Linked DNA regions of Homo sapiens. The gene in region 2 interacts genetically with the main gene of each other region. Each region holds a gene or a part of one and is shown on either strand. Other genes may lie near its edges.

What was found.
Region 1: changes in RIC1 (region 2) and PTAR1 are lethal when combined (synthetic lethality), as found in Homo sapiens cells (one study listed by BioGRID).
Region 3: changes in RIC1 (region 2) and EIPR1 are lethal when combined (synthetic lethality), as found in Homo sapiens cells (one study listed by BioGRID).

The regions. Positions count from the first base shown.
Region 1 is NC_000009.12:69,725,489-69,729,150, forward strand, and holds part of PTAR1 (protein prenyltransferase alpha subunit repeat-containing protein 1), read right to left. Parts: intron 1-3,662.
Region 2 is NC_000009.12:5,765,027-5,768,688, forward strand, and holds part of RIC1 (guanine nucleotide exchange factor subunit RIC1), read left to right. Parts: intron 1-387; coding exon 388-546; intron 547-635; coding exon 636-772; intron 773-3,662. UniProt on the Homo sapiens protein: The RIC1-RGP1 complex acts as a guanine nucleotide exchange factor (GEF), which activates RAB6A by exchanging bound GDP for free GTP, and may thereby be required for efficient fusion of endosome-derived vesicles with the Golgi compartment.
Region 3 is NC_000002.12:3,190,555-3,192,890, reverse strand, and holds part of EIPR1 (EARP and GARP complex-interacting protein 1), read left to right. Parts: intron 1-309; coding exon 310-477; intron 478-2,336. UniProt on the Homo sapiens protein: Acts as a component of endosomal retrieval machinery that is involved in protein transport from early endosomes to either recycling endosomes or the trans-Golgi network.

The DNA.
Region 1 (3,662 bases), about 64 Mb from region 2:
CTGAGGCAGGAGAATAACTCGAACCTGGGAGGTATAGGTTGCAGTGAGCCGAGATTGCTCCACTATACTCCAGCCTGGGCGACAAAACAAGACTCCATCTCAAAAAAGAAAAAAAATATATATATATATTTTCAACAAAATCAATTTCTTAAAAAAATTCTTAGGCTTTTAAAGAGAAAATCCACTATATTCTTTTCCCTAAGATATAAAGATGCATATTAGAAACTTTAACTGGAATTTCAGGGTATTCTCTTGTTAGAATAAAAAGATATAAAGATAGAGGCAATGATTTTTTTAAAAAAGACAGCAATTACTTTTAAGTGATCCAGTTAACTTTTAAGTGATCTAAAGATACTATATGAAGATATGGCTTTAATGTACAGTACTGATGGGATAAATGACCTTCGTATGATATACGTTAAATATCTTTCTTTTCCTACTTCCATATGAAAACATGAATAAGTGAATAAATAAACTACAAGAAAACTGCAAATGCAGGGCTATGAAAAAGAGGGATAACGTGCTAAAAATGAAAGACTACTAAAAATACATATGCCATAGGTCCTTTAAACTTTTAAAAATAGTATTTGGGTTTTCTTCTGATTATAAAAGTGATACAAAATGATCAATATAGAAAATTCCAATAATATGGGAAAATATAAAAAAGCAAACAAAAATCATCCATTATTTTGTTGGCCAGAGATCACTACTTGTAACATTCTGGCAGAAAACAAATCTTTCAGGTTTTTTTCTATGTATGCACATGCACAGAGTTTATTTTTAAGAAAAATCTGGGATATTCTTTTGTACCAATTTTATTCTACTTCAATTATAAATACATTCCTATGGCATTAAATATTATTCTATAATTTTTAACTCGTAAAATATTTCACCCTCAAGATTAACAGAATTTAACCATTCCTGTGTTTGTTTCTACTCTTGTATAAGTAACACTCATAAATAAATCTATGTACATATCTAATTATTTAGGAGAAATTTGTAGAAATATACTTGCTGGAACAAAGAAAAAAACTTTATAAAGTTCTTGATATATAAAGTGTCCTGCAGAAAGACTGTATAATTTATACTCCTATTGGAAGTACATGTTAATGCTTATTTCCTAAATTCATCATCAATACTTTAATCTTCACTAATAAGAATCACATTTCATTTTAATTTACATTTCCTTAATTATCATTAAGCCTAAATATCTTTTCTTGTGTGATTACTTTTCCTTTGCTTCTTCATTTATGAACTGCCTATTTTGCCTAATTCTCTACTTTTATGAATTATCTAATTTACTATTTGTGATAGTCATTATTTTTCTTACGAGTTTGTAAGAGGTCTTTACATATTAAAGATATTAAGTCTCTATTTGTCATATGTGTTATAAATATTATTTTCGATATATTACTGCAACTGATTTTTTAAATTCTTTTTTTTTTTTTAAAGATTGGGAGTCAAGTAAAATTCTTTTTTTTCTTTTCTCCCTCAGGTCTATTGAAGAAGTATAAATGACAAATTAAAATTGTGTATATACACACACACACACACACACACACACGTATACACACACATATATATATACGATGTACGACATATTGTTTTTATGTATACACTGTGAAATGATTACCACCATCAAGTGAATTAACTTATCTATCACCTCACATAAGTATTTTATTTTTTGTGGTAAGAACATTTAAGATAACGCTCTTAGAAATCTTTGGGTATACATTATTAACAGTAATTACCATGTTCTACCATTAGACCTCCAGAACTTACTCATCCTAACGGAAACTTTGTACCCTTTAACCAGCAACTCCCTGTTCCCCACCACAACCCCTACTCCTGCAATCACCATTCTACTATTTCCATGAGTTCAACTTGTTTAGAGTCCACCTACAAGTGACACCATGCAATATTTATCCTTCTGCGCTTGGCTTATTTCACTTAGCATAATGTGAGTCTCTTTTCTTCATATAGGTTTTTATTCCATTTAAAGTTCAATTTGGTATTTAAGATTAAAAAAAAAAAACCACCTAACTTTCTATTTTCTAAAAAGTCAATAAATTTTACCAGCATCACAAATTGAACAGGGAATCCTTTCTCTAATTATGTGAAATGCCATATTCATCATTAATGAAATATGTACATATTATGTATTGGAATTTGTTTCTGGACTTTATATTCTGTTCCATTACTGAGTCTATTTTTGAAATAGCATCACAATTTTAATTACTCTGTCTTATTAATAAACATGTAAGTATCTAATGGTAGAGTGTTCTTTATTGTTTTTCCCAACAATTCCTCAGCTATTCTTTAAGCTTTATTCTCTCTAATGTACTTTAGAATCATTTTTGAAGTGAAAAAATAAATCAGTGGTTTTTAATATATTCACAGAATTGTGCAACCATTGCTCTTATCTAATTTCTAATGTTTTCACCACCCCCACAAAACCCCATTCCTATTAGAAGTTACATCCCATTCCCTCCTCCCCAGCCTCTGGCACCCACTAACCTGCTTTGCCTATTCTGAACATGTTATATAAATGAAATCATACAATATGTGGCCTTGAATCTGACTGCTTTCAATCAGCATGTTTTCAAGGTTCATCCACGTTATAGCATGTATCAGTATTTCCTTCCTTTTTTATGGCCAATGTTCTATTGCATGGATACGCCACATTTTGTTTTCCATTCCTCAGGTGAGGTATTATTTTTTGGCTATTATAAATAATATGGCTATTAATGTTCTCATACAAGATTTGGTATGGAATGTGTTTTCACTTCTCTTGGGTATATACCTAGGAGCAGAATTACAGGGTCATATATGGTAATGCATGTTTTTCTCCAAGAATATGATATATATTAACTATAGTTTTATTAATATATAGTGATTCTATGTTTAATTATTTGAGGAAATGCCAAACTGCTTTCCACAGTGGCTGTACCATTTTACATTCTTACCAGCCATAAATAAGAGTTTCAGTTTCTCCACATCCTAACCAACATTTGTTATTGTCCGTATTTTGGTGTGAAGTGGTATCTCACTCCCTGTGGTTTTGCTTTGCATTTCCCTAATAGTAAAGATGGTGAATATCTTTTCATGTCCTTATTGGTGGTGTGGGTAGGTTTTTTGGAGAAATGACTATATGTGCTTTTTTTATGTGAAACTTGTAATTTGCCAGTAGTAATAAACTGCCTGACTGTGAATCTTTCCTGCCACACTACCCTCAAATATAAAAATATTTTAAAATTTACTTAAATGTTTATTTAAGCATGCAGACATCAGAGAGAACATAAAATAGAAAATTAGTGTCATAATTCCACCCTATACTACTTTTAATCAATCTTTATTCTTTAACCTTTTTCTGACTAGAAAACAAATATATGCTTTTATAAAAAATACAAGAAAAAAATCTATAGCATTGTTGTGTGTATGTATTACTATCTGTTCAGCATTTACCATGTGCCAAGCACTGTTTCAAACACTTTAAAGTATTTGCTGTCTCATTCAATGCTAATAAATACATTAAAAATTATATTAGGCTGCTGGGTGTGGTGGCTCATGCCTGTAATCCCAGCACTTTGGGAGGCAGAGGCAGGTGGATTGCTTGAGGTCAGGAGTTCAAGACCAGCCTGACCAACATGGCGAAACCCCGT
Region 2 (3,662 bases):
CCTGACCTATTTTGGAGTCAGGCAAACCTCCCTTTTTTTTCTTCCTTTTCTGCTGATCTTCAACAATTTACTTAACTCAGTTTCCTCACTTGTAAAATACAAATGATATGCCTATCTGCAGAGTCACTGGGAGAAATAAATGAAATGACTTAAAGTATATGTATGCTATCTGGCATGTAGTAGGAGTTTAATAAATTATAGTTTACATACACCAGAAGAGTACTTGCCTCGCTTTTCCTTGTATGGTACTTTTTAATCTTATTATTAAACTAACCCCTGTGGTGGTGTGGCTACATTCTTTGAGTTTAGAAAACGAGATAAAGAATTGCTCATATCTTCCCAAATTGTGTAGTATAAAAAGAATGCTGTCCTGGTTGTTTTTTGTAGAATATGGAAGTCCCTGCAGTAAGTAGGCAACATGCTACCCTTCTATTCAACACAGCACTAGAACAAGGCAAGTGGGACCTTTGTCGACACATGATTCGATTTCTTAAAGCCATTGGCTCTGGAGAATCTGAGACACCTCCATCCACACCCACAGCTCAGGTTAGTTGCAAAAGTTACACATCTTCTCTAGGCCATACACCCACGTAGCATCTTTCTCTAATGGTACTGCATATGGTGTGTAATCCTAGGAACCCAGTTCAAGTGGTGGATTTGAGTTCTTCAGGAATCGAAGCATCAGTTTATCCCAGTCAGCTGAAAATGTTCCTGCCAGTAAATTCAGTTTACAGAAAACACTAAGTATGCCATCTGGTCCCTCTGGAAAAAGGTAAAATAATAAAGAGCCATTACTGCTTTTTGGGCATTCATGACACATTGCATTTCAAGACATTTACAAAATTAGGTCTTAATGGAAACAACTATTTAATCCAATTGCAGTTTCTTTTTCCATTCCCAAAAAGCAGAGGCCACACAGAAGGCTTCCCTTTTTCCTTCCTCCCAAGTTCACTTCAGCACCCTCTGAATAGTTTCTGCCCCTTTTTCTGGAATAGATCTTCATGTACCTGTTCTGAATGTAACAAACTTGTTTAAGACAGAGTCTCACTCTGTCACCCAGGCTGGAATGCAGTGGCACCATCTCAGCTCACTGCAACCTCCGCCTTACAGGTTCAAGCGATTATCCTGCCTCAGCCACCCAAGTAGCTGGGATTACAGGCATATGCCACCACACTCGGCTAATTTTCATATTTTTAGTAGAGACGGGGTTTCAACATGTTGCCCAGGCTAGTCTCGAACTCCTGGCCTCAAGGATCCACCTGCCTCTGCTTCCCAAAGGGCCGGGATTACAAGCGTGAGCCACCCTACCTGGCCAAATGCTACAAACTTTTTTTTCCCATAAGTTACTGGGGTCCAGGTGGTATTTGGTTACATTAATAAGTTATTTAGTGGTGATTTGTGAGATTTTGGTGCACCCATCACCCAAGCAGTATACACTGCACCATATTTGTTGTCTTTTATCCCTCACCCCCTCCCAGCCTTTCCCCCAAGTCCCCAAAGTCCATTGTATCATTCTTATGCCTTTGCGTCCTCATGGTTTAGCTCCCACATATCAGTGAGAACATACTACATTTGGTTTTCCATTCCTGAGTTACTTCACTTAGAATAATACTCTCCAATCTCATCAGGTCACTGCAAATGCTGTTAATTCATTCCTTTTTATGGCTGAGTAGTATTCCATCATATATACGTATATACAAGTTTCTTTATCCACTCGTTGACTGATGGGCATTTGGGTTGGTTCCACGATTTTGCAGTTGTGAACTGTGCTGCTATAAACGTGTGTGCAAGTATCTTTTTTGAATGACTTCTTTTCCTCTGGGTAGAACCCCAGTAGTGAGATTGCTGGATCAAATGGTAGTTCTACTTTTGGTTATTGAGGGAATCTCCACCCTGTTTTCCATAGCAGCTGTACTAGTTTACATTCCCACCGGCAGTGTAGAAGTGTTCCCTGATGGCCACATCCATGCCAACATCTACTGTTTTTTGATTATGGTCATTCTTGCAGGAGTAAGGTGGCATTGCGTTGTGGTTTTGATTTGAAAATGCAACAAACTTTTAAATTACCTCTGATGATAGAGGACCAAAAGGAAGATAGATAAATCTGTAGGTAATCCAAAAGCCTTCTTAAAGTCGTAATTTTACCTTTCCTTCTAATTATACTTTTTGATATAAATTTAGTGCTAATGCATTTGACACTCTTGTGACCTATTGATTAGAGAAGTTATTACACAGTCGGGGAGCCAAATGAATTGTATGCTGGAGACTGAAACTGCTATCACCCATAGATGGGATATTGTCTTCTGAGAGATGACTATGAATTCACACTAACATTATAAAATCATGAGAATTTCCTCTGGTTTGTGAGGCCTGTGTATTCCTTCCTATGTTCTTCTGTTGTTGTCTCATTTTTTTCCTTACCTAATCCTTTGTTTTATATTGTTCATATTCTCTTTTTTTTTTTTTCCCCAGGACAACATGAACATATGTTTATATTCTTACTACCGTGCTTGGGCACATAGTGAGAGCTTATTGAACGTTTGTTATTGTCATGTTTTACTGGGTTTTTTTGTTTTTTGAGATGGAGTTTCGCTCTTGTTGCCCAGGCTGGAGTGCAATGGCTTGATCTCGGCTCATCGCAATCTCCGCCTCCCAGGTTCAAGTGATTCTTCTGCCTCAGCCTCCCAAGTAGCTGGGATTACAGGCATGCACCACCACGCCTGGCTCATTTTGTATTTTTAGTAGAGACGGGGTTTCTCCGTATTGGTCAGGCTAGTCTCAAACTCCCGACCTCAGGTGATCCGCCTGCCTCTGCCTCCCAAAGTGCTGGGATTACAGGCATGAGCCACCATGCCCAGCCTGTTTTACTGTTTTTTAACAAGTGCTTACTACATGCCAGGCCTTATTCTAAGCATTTACATACATAGGTCCTATTTTAAACAACTCTATGAGGGTTATCCACATTGTATAGGTGAAGAAACAGAGGCCTAGGAAAATAAACTTAGTTATGTTCACACAACAAATGAGTGGCAGAGCCAAGATCCGAATCCAGGCAGTACTGCACCAGAGACTAGGCTCTTTACCCCACCACTAAACTGCCTCTCACTTAAAGCACCACATTATCCAGTTACCAAACCAGTTCCCCCACATTAGCTCATGTAAGTCAGGAATGAGAGACTATACTTAGGCAAGTTGTAATTTTTAAAAATTGGTTTCAGGACTGGCAAGGTGGCTAACACCTGTAATTCCAGCACTTTGGGAGGCCAAGGTGGGAGGATTGCTTGAGGCCAGGAGTTCAAGATGAGTCTGGGCAACACAGCAAGATCCCATCCTTGCAAAAATAAAAATACATTGGCTAGGCATGGTGGCAAGTACCTGTAGTCCCAGCTACTTGGGAGGCTGAGGTGGGGAAGATAGCTTGAGCCCAGGAGTTTGAGGTTGCAGTGAGCTATGATCACACCACTGCACTCCAGACTGGGTGACATTGTGAAACCTTGTCATTTAAGAAAAAAAAAGTTGGTATTCTTTTCATATGTCTGCATGACTCACACTGAGAAATTTAATTTCACTTTGCCTCTCTATCCTTAGTTTCTTTGATGTGCTCTCCTTCCCTCTTTTCATTGGGCTTTTCAAATATAGCATAGAGGTTTGCTGCCTTTCTT
Region 3 (2,336 bases), on a different chromosome or scaffold from region 2:
CAGTATTTTTTTTTTTTTTTCGAATTTTAGAAAGCTTGTCTGAAATGTTGCGTGATAAGCCTTCTCCTCCTGTAGGTTTCAGCCAACATTTAGTCTTCCCTGTCTGTCTCTTGGGACTTAAGAGAAACCTGCAGTAAACCCAACCTCAGCGGAAAACTGCCTTATGTCAGGCCCTGTGACTGGGGGCCGATTGCCTGGCAGTGCCTAACGTGAGCCCCAGCCTAGTGGGGCCCTCAGAGCCGGTGTGATCCATTGTTGGTGTTGCCTGCGGGTGACAGTTCATTTCAGCAGCTGCCTTGCCCTTTGCAGGGTGTGGAACGTCCGCTACAACCACTCTCATGACCAGCTGGTCCTCACGGGCAGCAGTGACAGCAGAGTCATCCTTTCCAACATGGTGTCCATCTCGTCGGAGCCCTTCGGCCACTTGGTAGACGACGATGACATCAGTGACCAGGAGGACCACCGTTCTGAAGAGAAGTAAGGGCACGCACTGCAGAGTGGCTCACGCTGTACCAGAGCCTCCTGTCTGCACAGCCATCTCCCGAGCCAGGCTGTGTATGTAGAAAGTTTCCAGGAGTGCATTTGGGGGACACTCTCCTTACCCACTGCAGCTGTGGGGACTCACAGTTCCAGGGGTGCCGTCATTAGCAGCCCAGGTGGGAGGCACTGCAGGTGCGTTAGGGTTAGGTGCGGTTTTAAAATAGATCTATTTGTGTTTGTATTCTTATTGAATGCCATCTGTAAGATTTAAAAGACTCACTGGTCTTCAAACTTGAGCATGAATAATAATAGAACGAATATATCCCAATCCTCACAGCACTCCCTGTAAGAGACGCATCACAGTCAGTGTCTTCACTGGCGTGGATTTGAGCGTGTTGGGGTCGGGTTGTTGGCCATCAGCTCACGGGCCTTCCACTGGCTGGTAGCAGGGCGGAGACTCCAGGCCAACCTTCCCAGTCTCAAACCCGGGTCCTACTTCACTTCTAGATACTCTACAAAATGTGGTCAACCATGATGTGGGTTTTCTAGTCACACCATCATGGTTCTGGATTTTCCCAAAGCTTTTTCCTATGCACCTTGATTTCTGATCCTAGGTGAGATGGGAGATCGCTAAGGGCAGCCTCTTCATGCCCGCCTCTGGTCAGCGGTGCAGTGCCAGGGCCCCTGTGTCCTTGAGCAGTCCACCTTTAGAAGTGGCAGCCGCTTCCTGGGGGGTGACTAGATGCAATTCAGTTGCAACCGCAGAGATTCTTGCCCCAGGTTCCAGAGGAAGGAGGTTCTGGAATAAAACCTTGTGAAGTTGGACAGAGCCCTTAGATACGATGGGGTCTGTCACTCTGTTTTGGGATCCTTTGCACTGTTTTTTGTCTGAATTCTCCCCCTACCCACCTGAGCTTGGTCTAAAATTCCTCTGTGAGAAGACCTCTTTCTTCAGACCCTCTCTGCAGTGGCGATGGGACCATCTGATTGTCTCTGTCTTCGGACCCTCTCTGCAGTGGGGATGGGCCCATCTGATTGTCTCTGTCTTCAGACCCTCTCTGCAGTGGCGATGGGCCCATCTGATTGTCTCTGTCTTCGGACCCTCTCTGCAGTGGCGATGGGCCCATCTGATTGTCTCTGTCTTCAGACCCTCTCTGCAGTGGCGATGGGCCCATCTGATTGTCTCTGTCTTCAGACCCTCTCTGCAGTGGCGATGGGCCCATCTGATTGTCTCTGTCTTTGGACCCTTTCTGCAGTGGCGATGGGCCCATCTGTTTGTCTCTTGACTCTGTTGCCTTTGTTTTGTTTTTGAGACAAACAAAAACAAACAAAAAAGTCACCCAAGCTGGTGTGCAGTGGCACGATCATGGCTCACTGCAGCCTTGACCTCCTGGGCTCAGGTGATCCTCTCACCTCAGCCTCTCAAGTAGCTGAGACAACAGGCCCATGGCACCATGTCTGGCTAACTTTTTGTAGAGACAGAGTTTTGCCATGTTGCCCAAGCTGGTCTCAAACTCCTGAGCTCAAGTGATCTGCCCACTTCAGCCTCCCAAAGTGCTAGGATTACAGGCATGAGCCAGACTCTGTTGTTTTTCTGTTCAAACCTTAGAAACTCGGTCTGCCATAGAATAGTATTTAAGCACACGCACGGTAGCATCTGCCCAGTGGTCTCTCGGTGCCTGTGGGCCTGGCTCCCTTTACCGTCCTCTCTGCCAGTGGCCCAGGGAGTCTGCACTTCCTCACCATGTCTGTCCCTGTTAGGGGAGGAGCCTGATGGGCCCGTTGGTCGGAAGACTGCTGGCGTTGTCTTCTGGGCGGCAATGTCATGGGAGCAAGATAGGAAGGGAGGAGGTGAT